Regions from separate parts of the Homo sapiens genome. Here region 2 is linked to region 1. Evidence: fine-mapped expression QTL. A gene starts in region 1. The other region holds a variant in brackets. All regions are shown on one strand. Distances are from middle to middle.

Region 1 (8,592 bases):
AATGGGACTTTGGAGGAAGTCACTGGGGTGAAGGTGGGGCGGGACTCTCCAGTAGACATGAAATTTCATGGACGTTGACATTGCGAGGGGCACAGTATTGGGCAGAAACCAAACACTGACCCGATTCCTCCCCCAGGAGGTGGACGTGGGTTTGGCTGCCGATGTAGGAACACTGCAGCGCCTGCCCAAGGTCATCGGGAACCAGAGGTGGGTGCAGGGGGTGTGGGGGTGTGGGCAGGAGACCCCAGAGCATCTCCCAGCCCCGGGGTGGCAGCCGCCTCCTGATGCACGCTTGCCTTTGCAGCCTGGTCAACGAGCTGGCCTTCACCGCCCGCAAGATGATGGCTGACGAGGCCCTGGGCAGTGGGCTGGTCAGGTAGGGCCATGGCCGTGGTAGCTCAGTGCTGGGGGCAGCCAGGCCTGGAGGGTTGGAGGCCTCTCCGGGTCCCCTTGTCTCCTCGCTCTAGAATTCCTAGTGGCATCCTTTCTTGGTGAGCTCATTTCTTTATTGTGGGGTCAGCCCCCTGCTCTGATTGGGCTGTTTCTCTGGGGTCTTGGGCCTTCCTCTGTGAGTGGCCACTTCTTCATCTGCGGGAGGCTGGAGGAGAGAGCCCTTCCCAGCCCACCCGGTCCCTGATCTCTTTCACTGCAGCCGGGTGTTCCCAGACAAAGAGGTCATGCTGGATGCTGCCTTAGCGCTGGCGGCCGAGATTTCCAGCAAGAGCCCCGTGGCGGTGCAGAGCACCAAGGTCAACCTGCTGTATTCCCGCGACCATTCGGTGGCCGAGAGCCTCAACTACGTGGTAAGGTGCACGCTCCGACCAATCACAGCCCTCCTCTAACCCCAGGCGACCAACCAGGGTGCAGGGTGCTCTCATGCTTTATCCTGATTGGCCCCTGCTAATCTCTCTCCTCGTTCTCTCTCAACACCCTCGGTACCAGGCGTCCTGGAACATGAGCATGCTGCAGACCCAAGACCTCGTGAAGTCGGTCCAGGCCACGACTGAGAACAAGGAACTGAAAACCGTCACCTTCTCCAAGCTCTGAGAGCCCTCGCGTCCCAGGCCCCAGCCAGGGGGCCGGCCTTGTCCCGCCTCATCCACAGAAAGGGAGGATGGGCGATGACAGTTGTTTCTATGCCTTCTGACCCAGTTTCCCAGTTTATAACTTTATGACAATGAGTTTCTCAAGCCCAAGGCCTTATCTTCACCCCACAAACAATAAAGCAAAGTAAAGAACCTGGTGCCCTTCTTGGATAGAGGAGAGGTGGGAGGGGCTGGGATGCACCTAGGGGCTCCAGAGACTGCAGTCCTGAAGGCTGGGGCTAGAGGTTGGATGCATGGGAATGGGTGGCATGGAGGTGATGGCCATTCAGACTGGCAGCGGGCAGGCGAGGGGCACAAGGAATTCCGGGGCGGAGGGAGTGAGCAAAAGTCGCTGGGGTCCCTCTGGGTTGCAAGGCTTCCTGGTCTCCCTGCCTGCCCTGGGGTTGAGGGTGGCGTTCGTGCCCTGCCTGGCACCTCTCACTGCACAGCACATGGGATCTGATGCTGGCGTCTCACACCTGTAATCCCAGCACTTTTGGAGGCTGACGCAGGTGGATTGCCTGAGCTCAGGAGTTTGCAACCAGCCTAGTCAACATGTTGAAACCCAGTCTCTACTAAAAATACAAAAATTAGCTAGGTGTGGTGGCAGGTGCCTCTAGTCCCAGCTACTCGGGAGGCTGAGGCAGGAGAATCCTTGAACCCAGGAGGTGAGTTTGCAGTGAGCTGAGATCATGCTGCTGCAGTCCAGCCTGGGTGACAGAGTGAGACTCTGTCTCAAAAAAAGAAAAAACAAAACAAAAAAGGACTTTGGGGTTTCTGGCCGGGTGCAGTGGCTCATGCCTGTAATTCCAGCACTTTGGGAGGTTGAGGCAGGTGGATCACTTGAGGTCAGGAGTTTGAGACCAGCCTGGCCAACATGGCAAAACCTGGTCTCTACTAAAAATACAAAAATTAGCCAGGCGTGGAGTAAGCCTGTAATCCCAGCTATTCAGAAGGCTGAGGCAGGAGAATCCCTTGAACCTGGGAGGTGGAGGTTGCAGTGAGCTGAGATGGTGCCACTGCACTGCAGCCTGGGTGATAGAGCAAGACTCTGTCTCAAAAATGAGCAAACAAAACTTTGGGATTTTTTATCCATATATCATCCCAATCTTCCGGATTTATGTTTGGAATGACTGCAAGAGACCAAGCATTAAGTTAATGACTTCTATATGCTATGTCCTGTTCTGAGCATTTATTATCTTAATGATCAAGGACTCTATGAAGTTGATACTATTATGATTATTATTATTATGACTATTATTGTTGCTATTTTTAGAGACGGACTCTTAGTCTGTCACCCAGGCTGGAGTGCAGTGGCATGATCATAGCTCACTGTAACCTTAACTCCTGGGTTCAAGCGATCCTCCTGCCTCAGCCTCTGAGTAGCTAGGAATACAGATGTGTGCTACCATGCCCAGCTAATTTTTATTTTATTTTTGTAGAGATGGGGGTCTCACTATGTTGCCCAGGCTGGTCTTGAACTCCTGGGCTCAAGCAGTCCTCCTGCTTCAGCTTCCCAAATTGCTGGGATTGTAGGCACAAGCCACCACACCCAGCCTAAGGTTGATACTACTCTTTTCTTTATTTATTTATTTTTCTGAGTGGCAGTTGGACCCACAGCTAGAACTTATTTGGCAGATTAATAACATACAGGCATTACTGGATCACAAATTCATTTTTAAAATATTTTGATAGCTATTCAATACTTGTTTCCTCTCTTATGAATTCCTTTTTTTTTTTTTTTTTTTTTGAAACAGAGTCTCCATCTGTCATCCAAGCTGGAGTGCAGTGGCGTGACCTTGGCTCACTGCACTCTCCTCCACTCAGGTTCAAGTGATTCTCCTGCCTCAGCCTCCAAGTAGATGGGATTATAGGCACCCACCACCATGCCTGGCTAATTTTTGTATTTTTAGTAGAGACTGGGATTTTGCCAGGCTGGTCTCGAACTCCTGCCCTCAGGTGATCCATCCACCTCGGCCAGTCAAAGTGCTGGGATTACAGGCATGAGCCACTGCACCCAGCCGATACTACTATATCCCCATTTTACAGATGAGCACATGGGCAAATTGAGGGTAAGGCACTGACCCATGATCATACAGCTGAGAAGTGGCAAAGGCAGGATTTGAACCTAGAACCTCTGGCTCCACACACTAGTAATCTAAACCACTCTCCCTACAATACAACATACGTGGTAAAGATGTGTGGTGGGCACGCAATCAACGTAGGTCCCTTCACAGTTGCTGGGAGAGGCAGGAATTTGCAGTTCCTCCGCGTTCTCCTCCTCCGCTGCCCACCTGTCCTGGGTCATTCCTGCAGCCTGCCCTGCCCTGCCTGGTCTCACCCTCCCTCTGCCAACAGAAGTCTGGGCAGGGTTTTATGGGCTCTGATAAGGCCCTGGCAGGGCCGAAGTTCATGAGCACTTCCTCTTTGCAGGAGGGCGTAGGGGAGGGGACCCAGGTGATTTGGGTCCTGGCTGGTCACCAGGGAAGCTGGCAAGGGAAGGGAGACTAGGGTGCGCTCTAGGAGAAGCCGACAGCCTGAGAGTCCCAGAAGAGGAGCCCTGTGGACCCTCCCCTGCCAGCCACTCCCTTACCCTGGGTATAAGAGCCACCACCGCCTGCCATCCGCCACCATCTCCCACTCCTGCAGCTCTTCTCACAGGACCAGCCACTAGCGCAGCCTCGAGCGATGGCCTATGTCCCCGCACCGGGCTACCAGCCCACCTACAACCCGGTGAGATGCCAGCTCAGGCCCCACTCCGCCCGCAGCTCCGTCCATAAGCCCTCACACCAATTTTCCCCACTCTGATCCTGGGGGGCCCCATCTGACTCTGTGGTCTGATTTACCCAAAGCTGACCCCGACCCTCGATTTACTCCTACCCTGACCTCAGGCTGTCTGTGTCCACGTCTAACTGTTGGCCCTCGTCATCTTCAACCTGGTCCTCCCCCATGGTTTCCTCTCTCCTGCTTAAGGGACTGGGGGGCTTTTCTGGGAGGGGTAAAGGCTGCAACAGGCAGATGGCTTGTGAGTCCCCTCACCAGGCCTCTTCTCCAGACGCTGCCTTACTACCAGCCCATCCCGGGCGGGCTCAACGTGGGAATGTCTGTTTACATCCAAGGAGTGGCCAGCGAGCACATGAAGCGGTAAGACCCTCCCCAAGCCAGGCCGGGCTGGCAGGGGACTTCCAACTGGGTGCTCTGGGCCTGGCTGTTGGGGGCTTTCTGCCCTTACCCCACCCTGGTGGAGAGGGGACTCTTTTTCTGCCCCACCCAATAGCCAGAGATGAATCTGGGGCAGATCAGGAGTGGGGACGTGGGGGCCAGAAGGTTCAGGGAGGGCTCACCGTGAGAGGCAGTCCCTGAGTTGGACATTAGACTGAAGCTGATGGGTGCAATGGCAGGAATTCAGATCACAGGCTCAGAGCCGGGTCCCCGAGTTAAAATCCCAGCTCTGCCACTCCCCAGCTCTGTGTTGGTGAAAGAGTGAAAGTGACTATACCTCTCTGTGCTTCATTTTCTTTTCTTTTCTGTTTTTGTTTTTTTTGTTTTTTTTTTTGTTTTGAGATGGAGTTTTGCTCTTGTCGCCCAGGCTGGAGTGCAATGGCATGATCTTGGCTCACTGCAACCTCTGTCTCCCAGGTTCAAGCGATTCTCCTGCCTCAGCCTCTTGAGTAGCTGGGATTACAGGCATGTGCCAGCACACTGGCTAATTTTTGTATTTTTAGTAGAGATGGGGTTTCACCATGTTGGTCAGGCTGGTCTCGAACTCCTGACCTCAAGTGATCCTCCCATCTCGGCCTCCCAAAGTGCTGGGATTACAGGCGTGAGCCACTGCGCCTGGCCCAGTCTTAGCTTTTTAAAAAGGGCCTTAACACGTTGATAATGATTGGCCTCATAGGACTTTTTTTTTCCTTAGAGATAGGGTCTTGCTCTGTTGCCCAAGCTGGAGTGCAGTGGCACAATATTATAGCTCACTTCGGCCTCCAACTCCTGGGCTAAAGTGATCCTCCTACCTCATCTTTCCAAGCAGATGGGACTACAGACATGTGCCACCATGCCCAACTAATTTAATTTTTAATTTTTATTTATTATTATTATTTGTTTTGTAGAGACAAAGTCTTGTTATGTTGCCCAGGCTGGTCTTGAACTCCTGTGCTCAAGCGATCCTCTAGCCTCGGCCTCCTAAAGTGCTGGGAGGATCAGGCACTGGTATGAGCCACTCTGCCCAGCCTGTTGTTTATTTATTTATTGTTTACTTCTTCACTGAGTGCCTATTCTGTGTCCTGGCACTAGGGATGGAGGAGTGAACAGGACAGAGACCCCTGCCCTCGTGGAGCTGATGTCCTAGTAGGGGAAACATAAAAAATAAGTCCAGGCCGGGCGCGGTAGCTCAGGCCTGTAATCCCAGCACTTTAGGAGGCCTAGGCAGGCAGATCACCTGAGATCGGGAGTTCAAGACCAGCCTGACCAAAATGGAGAAACCCTGTCTCTACTAAAAATACAAAATTACCAGGGCGTGGTGGCGCATGCCTGTAATCCCAGCTACTCAGGAGGCTGAGGCAGGAGAATCACTTGAACCTGGGAAGTGGAGGTTTCGGTGAGCCGAGATCGTGCCATTGCACTACAGCCTGGGCAACAAGAGTGAGACTCTGTCTCAAAAAAAAAAAAAAAAAAAGTCAAATATGTAAGATGTCAGATGATATTAAGTGCTATGAAGAAAATGAGGAGGGAAGGGAGATGGGGAGTGTATGTGCGGACAGAGGTTCCCTTTAAATTGTCCCCTTAAATAGGGTGGCCTGGCCGGGCATGGTGGCTTACGCCTGTAATCCCAGCACTTTGGGTGGCTAAGCCAGGCAGATCACCTGAGGTCAGGAGCTCGAGACTAGCCTGGCCAAAATGGCAAAATCGCATCTGGCTGGGCGTGGTGGCTCACGTCTGTAATCCCAGCACTTTGGGAGGCAGAGACGGGCGGATCACGAGGTCAGGAGATCGAGACCATCCTGGCTAACACAGTGAAACCCCGTCTCTACTAAAAATACAAAAAATTAGCTGGGCATGGTGGCGGGTGCCTGTAGTCCCAGCTACTCGGGAGGCTGAGGCAGGAGAATGGCGTGAAACCAGGAGGCGGAGCTTGCAGTGAGCCAAGATTGCGCCACTGCACTCCAGCCTGGGCGAAAGAGCGAGACTCCATCTCAAAAAAAAAAAAAAAAAAAAAAAAAAGGCGAAATCTCATCTCTGCTGAAAATACAAAATTAGCCAGGCATGGTGACAGGTGCCTGTAATCCCAGCTACTTGAGAGCCTGATGTGGGAGAATCACTTGAATCCTGAAGGCAGAGTTTGCAGTGAGCTGAGATCGCATCACTGCACTCCAGCCTAGGTGACAAAGGGAGACTGTCTCAAAAAAATTAAAAAGGTGGCCAGAGAAGGCCTGCCTGGGAAGGGAACATATCAGCAAAGAACAGAAGGAACGGAGAGAGGGATCCCCAGGGACAGCTGAGGGAAGGGCCTTCCAGGCAGAGGGAACAGCCAGTGCAAAGGCCCTGAGACAGGCCTGTCCTGGGGAGTAATTTCAAGGATGCTGGTGTGCCCAGGGGTGCGGAATATGATGCGTCATGGGTGTACACAGGGACCCTCTGGCTGCATGAGGGAAATGATCTTCAGGGCCAGGAGGGGAGCAGGGAGACCCAAAGTGCATAGGACAGGGCCTGGCCCGTGGCAGACTTGTAACAGTCATAACTGGAAGTTGGGAAGAGGGTGGAGGAGGTGGTCTAAGAAGGCAAGGTGGGCTGGGTACAGCAACTCACACCTGTAATCCCAGCACTCTGAGAGGCCGAGGTGGTAGGATTGCTTGAGCCCGGGAGTTTGAGACCAGCCTCGGCAACATAGTGAGACCCCATCTCTACAAAAAAAAAAAAAAAAAAAAAAAAAAGCCAGGCATAGTGGCATGCACCTGTAGTCCCAGCTACTAGGGAGGCTGAGGCAGGAGAATCAGTTGACCCAGGAGGTTGAGGCTGCAGTGAGCCACCATCGTGGCCACTGTACTCCAGCCTGGGGGACAGGGTGAGAACACAAGACCCTGTCTCAAGAAAAAAAATGTCAGGCACGGTGTCTCACACCTGTAATCCCAGCACTTTGGGAAGCCGAGGCAGGTGGATCACCTGAGGTCAGGAGTTTGAGATCAGCCTGGCCAACATGGTGAAACCCTGTCTCTACTAAAAATACAAAAATTAGCCGGACGTGGTGGTGCACGCCTGTAATCCCAGCTACTTGGGAGGCTGAGGCAGGAGAATCACTGGAATCCAGGAGGCGGAGGTTGCAGTGAGCTGAGATCGCGGCACTCCAACTCCAGCCTGGGCAACAGAGCAAGACTCCATCTCAAAAAAAAAAAAAAAAAAAAAAAGAAGGAAAGGCTGTGAGCGAAGGTGTGGTGGTGGGAATCTGCCCCCCTCAGAACTCAGGTCCTCTCCACGCTGTGGCCCACAGTGCCAAGGTTGCCCCTCAGAGCTGGTGCTGAGGTCCGGGCCAGGGAGGCCGAGGACAGGGCGGCAGGGAGAGGGCTTCCTGGAGGAGGCCCCCAGGCCCCGGGAGGTGGCACCAGGGGAATGAGCCCTTTGTGTCCCGCCAGGTTCTTCGTGAACTTTGTGGTTGGGCAGGATCCGGGCTCAGACGTCGCCTTCCACTTCAATCCGCGGTTTGACGGCTGGGACAAGGTGGTCTTCAACACGTTGCAGGGCGGGAAGTGGGGCAGCGAGGAGAGGAAGAGGAGCATGCCCTTCAAAAAGGGTGCCGCCTTTGAGCTGGTCTTCATAGTCCTGGCTGAGCACTACAAGGTCTGCATGCTTTCTCTCTTGTTTCCCAAGCTGGAGTGCAGTGGCGCCATCTTGGCTGCTTCCTTCCTTCCCGCCTTCCTTCCTTTTCTTTCTTTCTTTCTTTTTTTTTTTTTTTTTTTTGAGATGGAGTTTCACTCTGTTGCCCAGGCTGGAGTGCAGTGGCATGATCTCAGCTTACTGCAACCTCTGCCTGCTGGGTTCAAGAGCTTCTCCTGCCTCAGCCTCCCGAGTAGCTGGGATTATAGGCGCGTGCCACCACGCTCAGCTAATTTCTGTATTTTGAGTAGAGATGGGGTTTCACCATGTTGCCCAGGCTGGCCTCGAACTCCCGACCTCAGGTGTTCTGCCCTCCTTGGCCTCCCAAAGTGCTGGAATTACAGGCGTGAGCCACCACACCCAGCCCCTTCCTTCTTTTTCCTCTTTTTCCTTCCTCTTTCTCTGTTCTCTCCTCTTTCCTCCCCTCCTTCCTTCCCCCTTCCCTCCTCTCTTCTTCCTTCTCTCTCCTTCCCTCCTTCATTTATTTCCTTTTTCCATCCCCACTTTTTATGTCAACTTCTTTCTTTTCTTTTCCTTCTTTCCTGCCTATTTTATTTTATTTTATTATTTATTTATTTATTTATTTTTATTTATTGATCATTCTTGGGTGTTTCTCAGAGAGGGGGATGTGGCAGGGTCA
Region 2 (8,592 bases), 53 kb after region 1:
TCATTCTTCTGATTCCTTGATTTATATATCTATCCTTATCATGATAGCATATTCCTGATTACTGTAGCTTTATAGTGAGTCTTTCTCTCTTTTTTTTTTTTTTTTTTTTTGAGACGGAGTCTTACTTTGTCGCCCAGGCTGGAGTGCAGTGGCGTGATCTCTGCTCACTGCAAGCTCCGCCTCCTGGGTTCACGCCATTCTCCTGCCTCAGCCTCCAGAGTAGCTGGGACTACAGGCACCCACCACCACGCCCGGCTAATTTTTTTGTATGTTTAGTAGAGACGGGGTTTCACCGTGTTAGCCAGGCTGGTCTCTTAACTCCTGACCTTGTGATCCACCTGCCTCGGCCTCCCAAAGTGCTGAGATTACAGACGTGAGCCACTGCGCCTGGCCTTTTTTTTTTTTTTCCTTTAAAAAAGACGGAGTCTCTCTCTGTCACCCAGGCTGGAGTGCAATGGCACAATCTCAGCTCACTGCAACCTCTGCCTCCTGAGTTCAAGCAATTCTCCTGCCTCAGCCTCCTGAGTGCTGGGATTACAGGTGCCTGCCACCATGCCCAGCTAATTTTTGTAGTTTTAGTAGAGATGGGATTTCACCATGTTGGTCAGGCTGGTCTCGAACTCCTGACCTCAGGTGATCTGCCCACCTCGGCCTCCCAAAGTGCTGGCATTACAAGCATGAGCCACTGCGCCTGGCTTCTTCTTCTTCTTTTTTTTTTTTTTTGAGACAGATTCTCACTTTGTTTCCCAAGCTGGAGTGCAGTGGTGCGATCACAGTTCACTGTGGTTTCAACCTCCTGGGCTCACCCTCCTAAGTAGCTGGGACTACAGGCACATGCCACCACACCCAGTTAATTTCTGTATTTTTTGGAGAGACATGGTCTCGCCATGTTGCCCAGGCTGGTCTGGAATTCCTGGGCTCAAGCCATCCACCCACCTTGACCTCCCAAAGTGAATAGTGAGTCTTAAAGTCACATTATATGCCTTGCAACTTTGTTCTCCTTTCTCAAAATTGTTTTGTTTATTCTATGTCATTTTCATTTTTCAATACATTTCAATGGATACTTGTACAAAAATTGTATCTGTGTTTCTATTTTGTTCTTGAGTCAGTTTTGGTAATTTGTGTCTCTCTAGGGATTTGTTCATTTCATTTAAATTGCCTAATTAGTTGACCTAAATCTGTTCATAATATTCCCCTGTGATTTTTTAAAATTTGTGTACCATGTTAGTGTTTTTCCCTCCTTCATTCTTGCTTTTGGTAATTGAGGGCTTCTGTCTTTTTTATTTTTCTTACTCTTTTGTTGAACTTTTTAATGAGCTAACTGATTTCATTGAAAACCAGTATACTAGTTTGTTTGTTTGTTTGTTTGTTTTTGAGACAGAGTTTCACTCTGTCGCCAAAGGCTGGAGTGCAGTGGTGTGATCTCGGCTCACATCAACCTCCACCTCCGGATTCAAGCGATTCTCCTGCCTCAGCCTCCTGAGTAGCTGGGATTACAGGTGCCCACCACCATGCCCCACCAATTTTTGTATTTTTAGTAGGGACGGGGTTTCACCATGTTGGCCAGGCTGGTCTTGAATTCTTGATCTCAGGTGATCCACCTGCCTCGGCCTTCCAAAGTGCTGGGATTACAGGTGGGAACCACTGCACCCGGCCCAGTTTTGCTGATCTTTTCTTTTTTTGAGACAAGAGTCTCACTCTGTCACCCAGGCTGGAGTACAGTGGCATGATCTCGACTCACTGCAACCTCGGCCTCTTGGGTTCAAGTGATTCTCCTGTCTCAGCCTCCAGCTGGGATTACAGGTGTGTGCCACCATGCCCAGTTAATTTTTGTATTGTTAGTAGAGACAGGGTTTCTCCATGTCGACCGGGCTGGTCTCGAACGCCTGACCTCAAGTGATCTACCCACCTTGGCCTCTCAAACTGCTGGGATTACAGGTGTGAGCCACCACACCTGGCCTGTTAATCTTTTCAATACCGGTTTTGTTGATGTTTTCAATGAGCCAATTTCAGTTTCATTGCTTTTTCTCTATTGTTTTTATATTTCTGTTTCATTGCTGTCCATTTAGATCTTTATTACTTCCTTCTTACTATTTTCTTTGAGTTTGATTTACTCTTCTTTTTCTAGCTTTGGAGGTGGAAGCCTAAATTATTGATTTTAGGCCTTCTTTCCATTCTAATGTGTTGGGGTTTTTAAAATTTTCACCAGGCTGACTCAACACTAATATGTTTTTTAAGCTATAAGTTTCCCGCTAATTACTACATTGCCAGCATCCTGTACATTTTTATTTCCTGTGTTTTTGTTTTTATTCAGCTCAAGGTATTTTCTAAATTCATTTTTGATTTTTTTTTTTTTTTTTTTTAGATGGAGTCTCACTCTGTCACCCAGGCTGGAGTACAGTGGCGTGATCTCAGCTCACCACAACCTCCACCTCCCAGGTTCAAGCAATCCTCCTGCCTCAGCCTATCAAGTAGCTGGGACTACAGGCATGAGCCACCACGCCCAGCTAATGTTTGTATTTTTTAGTAGAGACACGGTTTCACCGTGTTGGCCAGGCTGGTCTCGAACTCCTGATCTAAGGTGATCCACTGGCCTTGGCCTCCCTTGGCTGGGATTATAGGCATGAGCCACCACACCTAGCCAGATTCCTTCTTTGACACATAGGTCATCTACAAGTATGTTGTTTAGTTTTCTTATATTTAGAGATTTTCTAAATTTCATTTTATTGTTGGCTTTTAGCTTAGTTCCATTATAGTTAGAAGTAATACTTTTTAAATTATTTTTTATTTTTACTATTATTATTTTCTAATAGAGATGGGGGTCTCATTATGTTGCCCAGGATGGCCTCAAACTCCTGGGCTCACGAGATCCACCTGTCTTATCTCACATAATAATTTCTTTCCCTCCCACCCTCCCTCCCTCCCTCCCTCCCTCCCTCCCTTCCTTCCTTCTTTCTTTCTTTCTTCTTCTTCTTTTTTTTTTGAGATGGAGTCTCTCTCATCCAGGCTGGAGTGCACTGATGCAATCAGCTCACTGCAACCTCTGCCTCCTGGGTTCAAGTGATTCTCCTGCCTCAGCCTCCAAGTAGTTGGGACTAAAGGCAGGTGCCACCACACCTGGCTAATTTTTGTATTTTCAGTAGAGATGGGGTTTTGCCATGTTAACTGGGCTGGTCTGAAACTCCAGACCTCAGGTGGTCCACCTGCCTAAGCCTCCTAACATGCTAGGATTACAGGCGTGAGCCACTGTGCCCGGCCCAATCCTATGTCTCTCTCTTTTTTTGTGTGTGTTTTTTTTTTTAGATGGAGTCTCTCTCTATTGCCCAGGCTGGTGTGCAGTGGTGTGATCTCAGCTCACTGCAACCTGGTTCAAGTGATTCTCCTGCCTCAGCCTCCCGAGTAGCTGGGACTACAGGTGCCTGCCACCACACCCAGCTAATTTGTATTTTTAGTAGAGTTGGGGATTCACCATATTGGCCAGGCTGGTCTCAAACTCCTGATCTTGTGATCTGCCCGTCTTGGCCTCCCAAAGTATTGGGATTACAGGTGTGAGCCACTGCATAGCTGGCCTCTCCTTATCTTAAAAAAAAAAAAAAAAAGAGGAGATTGAGGCAAGGCGAAGTTTTAAATTTTTAAATAATAATAACAATAATAATTATTATTATTATTATTTTGAGACAAGATCTCGATCTGTTGCCCAGGTTGGAGAACAGTGGTGCAATCTCGGCTCACTGCAACCCCCGCTTCCCGTCCTCAAGCCATCCTCCCACCTCAGCCTCCTGAGTAGCTGGGAATACAGTCGCACACCACCATGCCCAGCTAATTTTTGTATCTTTTCTAGAGACAGAGTTTCACCATATTGCCCAGGCCGATCTCAAACTCCTGGACTCTAGGGGTCTGCCTGGGTCAGCCTCCCAAAGTGCTTGGATTACAGGTGTGAGCCACCATGCCCAGCCAAGGGGAAGTTTTCAAAGGCAAAATGAGGAGGATTACATAAAGTGTTTTGAATCAATTATCCTTGGCTACGAGACTTGAAACAAGGGTGGCATCAGTCCAAGGTTGGACAGGCAGTTACTGGACAAAAGTACTTTCTGTGTAACGTTGCAGTGGACTTTGTGCGAGGTTGTGGTTTTTGGAGAGTCTTCCGCAAT[C/T]GTTCCTATCAGGCATTTGTGCATGAGCACGCTCCTTTCATGACCTTCCCGGTTCCTTTTTTTTTTTTTTTTTGAGACGGAGTTTCACTCTTGTGGTCCAGGCGCTGGAGTGCAATGGTGCGATCTTTGCCTCTTGGATTCAAGTGATTCTCCTGCCTCAGCCTCCTGAGTATCTGGGATTATAGGTGCCCACCACCAGTCCCGGCTAATTTTTTGCATTTTTAATAGAGACAGGGTTTCACCATGTTGGCCAGGCTGGTCTCCAACTCCAGACCTCAGGTGATCCACCCACCTCGGCCTCCCAAAGTGCTGGGATTACAGGTGTGAGCCACCACACCTGGCCCAGTCTCTGGTTTTCTATATGGTCATCTATACGGTCTTAAGTTCTAAGAAATGCATGGTTAGGCAATTTCGTCAGGGTGTGAACATCATAGAGTGACTTATGCAAACGTAGATGGTACAGCCTACCCCACACCTAGGCTATATAAAGTAACCTACAGCTCATAGGCTACAAGCATGCACAGCATTTAACTGTACTGAACACAGTGGGCAATTGTAACACAATGGTAAGTATTTGTGTATATAAACATATCTGAACATAAAAAAGGTACAGTAAAACTATGGTATAAAAGATGGAAAATGGGCCAGGAGCAGTAGTTCATGCCTGTAATCCTAGCACTTTGGGAAGCTGAGGTGGGCAGATCACTTGAGGTCAGGAGTTCGAAACCAGCCTGGCCAACATGGTGAAACCTCGTCTCTGCTAAAAATACAAAGAAGTTTAGGCCAGGCACGGTGGCTCACGCATGTAATCCCAGCACTTTGGGAGCTGAGGTGGGCGGATCACGAGGTCAGGAGTTTGAGACCAGCAGGACCAGCATGGTGAAACCCCATCTCTACTAAAAACACAAAAATTAGCCAGGCATGGTGGCACGTGCCTGTAATCCCAGCTGCTTGGGAGGCTGAGGCAGGAGAATCGCTTGAACCCGGGAGGCGGGGGTTGCAGTGAGCCAAGATCATGCCACTGCACTCCAACCTGGACAACAGATAGAGACTCTGGCTGAAAAAAAAAAAAAATACAAAGAAGTTAGCCAGGTGTGGTGGTGCACGCCTGTAATCCCAGCTATTTGGGAGGTTGAGGCAGGAGGATCACTTGAACCTGGGAGATGGAGGTTGCAGTGAGCGGAGATCATGCCACTGCACTCCAGCCTGGGTGAGAGAGTGAGACTCCATCTCAGAAAAATAAATAAAAGATGACAAATGGTACGCCTGTATGGGACACTTACCAGGAATGGAGCTTGCAGGACCGGAAGTTGCTCCAGGTGTGAGTGAGTGAGTGGTGAGTGAATGTGAAGGCTAGGACAGCACTGTACACTCCTGTAGACTTTATAAGCACTGTACTCTTAGGCTACCCTAAATTTAAAAAAATAAAGTAATTGTGCTACAGCATTGTGATGGCTGCAGCATCACTAGGTGATAGGAGTCCGGCTTCGTTGTAATTTTATGGGACATTGTCGCATGTGCAGTCCATCACTGACTGAAACGTGGTGATGCAGCACCCGACTGTGTATGTCACCTAGTCAGGGATACAGGCCAGGTGTGGTGGCTCACGCCTGGAATCCCAGCATTTTGGGAGGCCGAGGTGGGATGATTGCTAGAGGCCAGGAGTTTGAGACCAGCCTGGGCAACATAGTGAGACCCTGTCTCTACAAAAAAAAAAAAAAATCAAAAATTATCCAGGTGTGGTGGTGTATACCTGTGGTCCCAGCTACTAGGGAGGATGAGGCAGGGGGATTGCTTGAGACTGGGAGTCTGAGGTTACAATGGGTTATGATCATGCCACTGCACTCCAACCTGAGTGACAGAGCAAGATCATGTCTCTAAAAAAATACAGTGCTATATAACTGGGTTTTTTTTTTTTTTTTTTTTTGAGATGGAGTCTCAGTCTGCCACCCAGGCTGGAGTGCAGTGGCGCGATCTTGGCTCACTGCAACCTCTGCTTCCTGGGTTAAAGTGATTCTCCTGCCTCAGCCTCCCAAGTAGCTGGGATTACAGGCACCCGCCACCATGCCCGGCTAATTTTTGTATTTTTAGTAGAGATGGGGTTTCCATGTTGGCCAGGCTGGTCTTGAACTGACCTCAGGTGATCCCCCCCACCTCAGCCTCCCAAGGTGCTGGGATTACAGGCGTGAGCCACTGTGCCTCGCGTTTTTTTGTTGTTGTTGTTTTTGAGACAGAGTCTCGCTCTGGAGCGCAATGGCATGATCTCAGCTCACTGCAACCTCCACCTTTCAGGTTCAAGCCATTCTGCTGTCTCAGCCTCCTGAGTAGCTGGGACTAAACGCGTGCACCATCACACCCAGCTAATTTTTTGTATTTTATTTATTTATTTTTATTTATTTGAGATGGAGTCTTGCTCTGTCGCCCAGGCTGGAGTGCAATGGCGTGATCTTGGCTCACTGCAACCTCCACCACCTGGGTTCAAGCCATTCTCCTGCCTCAGCCTCCTGAGTACCTCGGACTACAGGCAGCCACCATCATGCCTGGTTAAGTTTGTATTTTTGTAGAGACAGGGTTTCACCATGTTGACCATGCTGGTCTCATATTCCTGACCTCACATGATCCACCGCCTCGGCCTCCCAAAGTGCTGGGATTACAGGCGTAAGCAACCATGCCCGGCCTTATAACCTTTCCTTTATTTATTTATTTATTTATTTATTTATTTATTTAGATGGAGTTTCGCTCTTGTAGCCCAGGCTGGAGTGCAATGGCATGATCTTGGCTCACCGCAACCTCTGCCTCCCAGGTTCAAGCGATTATCCTGCCTCAGTCTCCCGAGTGGCTGGGATTACAGGTGCCTGCCACCATTCCCAGCTAATTTTTATATTTTTAGTAGAGACAGGGTCTTGCCATGTTGGCCAGGCTGGTCTTTAACTCCTGACCTCGGATGATCCACTGTCCTTGGCCTCCCAAAGTGCTGGGATTACAGGCATGAGCCACTGTGCCTGGCATAACCTTTACTTTAAACAATTTTATATATATATATTTTTTACAATTTTATTTATTTGTCTGTCTATTTATTTTGAGACAGAGTCTTGCTCTGTCACACAGGCCAGAGTGCAGTGGCACAATCACAGCTCACTGCAGCTCCGACCTCCCAGGCTCCAGCAATACACCCACCTCAGCCTCCTGAACAGCTGGGACTGGACTATAGGTTTGCACCACCATGCCTGGCTAATTTTTGTATTTTGGGTAGAGATGGGGTTTCACCATGTTGCCCAGGCTGGTCTTGAATTCCTGAGCTCAAGCAATCCACCCACCTTGGCCTCAAAGTGCTGGGATTACAGGTTTGAGCCACCATACCCGGCCTTATATGGTTTTTTTCTTTTTTTTTTTTTTTTTTTGAGATGGAGTCTTGCTCTGTCGCCCAGCCTGGAGTGCAGTGGTGCAATCTCAGCTCACTGCAAGCTCCGCCTCCCAGGTTCACGCCATTCTCCTGCCTCAGCCTTCCGAGTAGCTGGGACTACAGGCACCCGCCACCACACCCGGCTAATTTTTTTTGTATTTTTAGTAGAGACGGGGTTTCACCACATTAGCCAGGATGGTCTCGATCTCTTGACCTCATGATCTGCCTGCCTCGGCCTCCCAAAGTGCTGGGATTATAGGCGTGGGCCACCGTGCCCAGCCTGACCTTATGTTTTAAAATAAATTAAAAGAAGAAAAGAAAAATACATTTCTGGGGCTCTTCATTTCTTCCTGTGGATTTGAGTTTCTGTCTACTGTCATTTTCAGTGTGAGGGGTTTCCTTGAGTATTCCCTGCGTTTAGGTATATGCTAGTCAGGAATTCTCTTTTTGTTTATCTGGGAATGATTTTCTTTTGCCTTTTGTTTTGAAGTATAGTTTTGTTGAATATAGAATTATCAGTTGACAGTTTTATTTTTCTTTCAGTGTTTTGAATAAATCATTCATCTGCCTTCTGGCCTCCATTGTTCCTAGGAGAATCTAGCCATTAATTCTATTGTTCCCCTGTACATAATGAGCTGTTTTTCACTTGCTCCTTTAAAATTTTCCATTTTCCTGGCACGGTGGCTCACGCCTGTAATCCCAGCACTTTGGGAGGCCAAGGAGGGTGGATCACGAGGTCAGGAGATCGAGAACATCCTGGCTAACACGGTGAAACCCCGTCTCTACTAAAAATACAGAAAATTAGCCAGGCGTGGTGGTGGGTGCCTGTAGTCCCAGCTACTCGGGAGGCTGAGGCAGGAGAATGGTGTGAACCCGGGAGATGGAGCTTATAGTGAGCCGAGATTGTGCCACTGCACTCCAGCCTGGGCGACAGAGTGAGACTCTGCCTCAAAAAAAAAAAAAAATGCCCTTTTTGAATTGTTTTCAGCAGTTTTACTTTCACTCGCGTCCGTGTGAAGAGACCACCAAACAGGCTTT

Evidence for each region. PIP is the estimated chance that this variant, and not a neighbour inherited with it, causes the effect.
Region 2: its variant is fine-mapped to the expression of LGALS4 in lung (TOPMed, PIP above 0.99).

Annotation. Positions count from the first base shown.
Region 1 is chr19:38,808,068-38,816,659 of GRCh38, reverse strand. It overlaps LGALS4 (galectin 4), which reads left to right and starts at 3,715. Exons shown (of 10, transcript NM_006149.4): 1 at 3,715-3,818; 2 at 4,141-4,229; 3 at 7,712-7,916. The coding sequence starts at 3,774. It overlaps ECH1 (enoyl-CoA hydratase 1), which reads left to right. Exons shown (of 10, transcript NM_001398.3): 7 at 137-207; 8 at 305-376; 9 at 653-803; 10 at 943-1,238. The coding sequence ends at 1,047. RefSeq lists a silencer at 705-905.
Region 2 is chr19:38,755,257-38,763,848 of GRCh38, reverse strand. No RefSeq gene overlaps it. Among named protein-coding and RNA genes, the nearest start is that of LGALS7, 14 kb to the left of the region's middle. The variant C/T (reference allele first, on the strand shown) is at 4,152.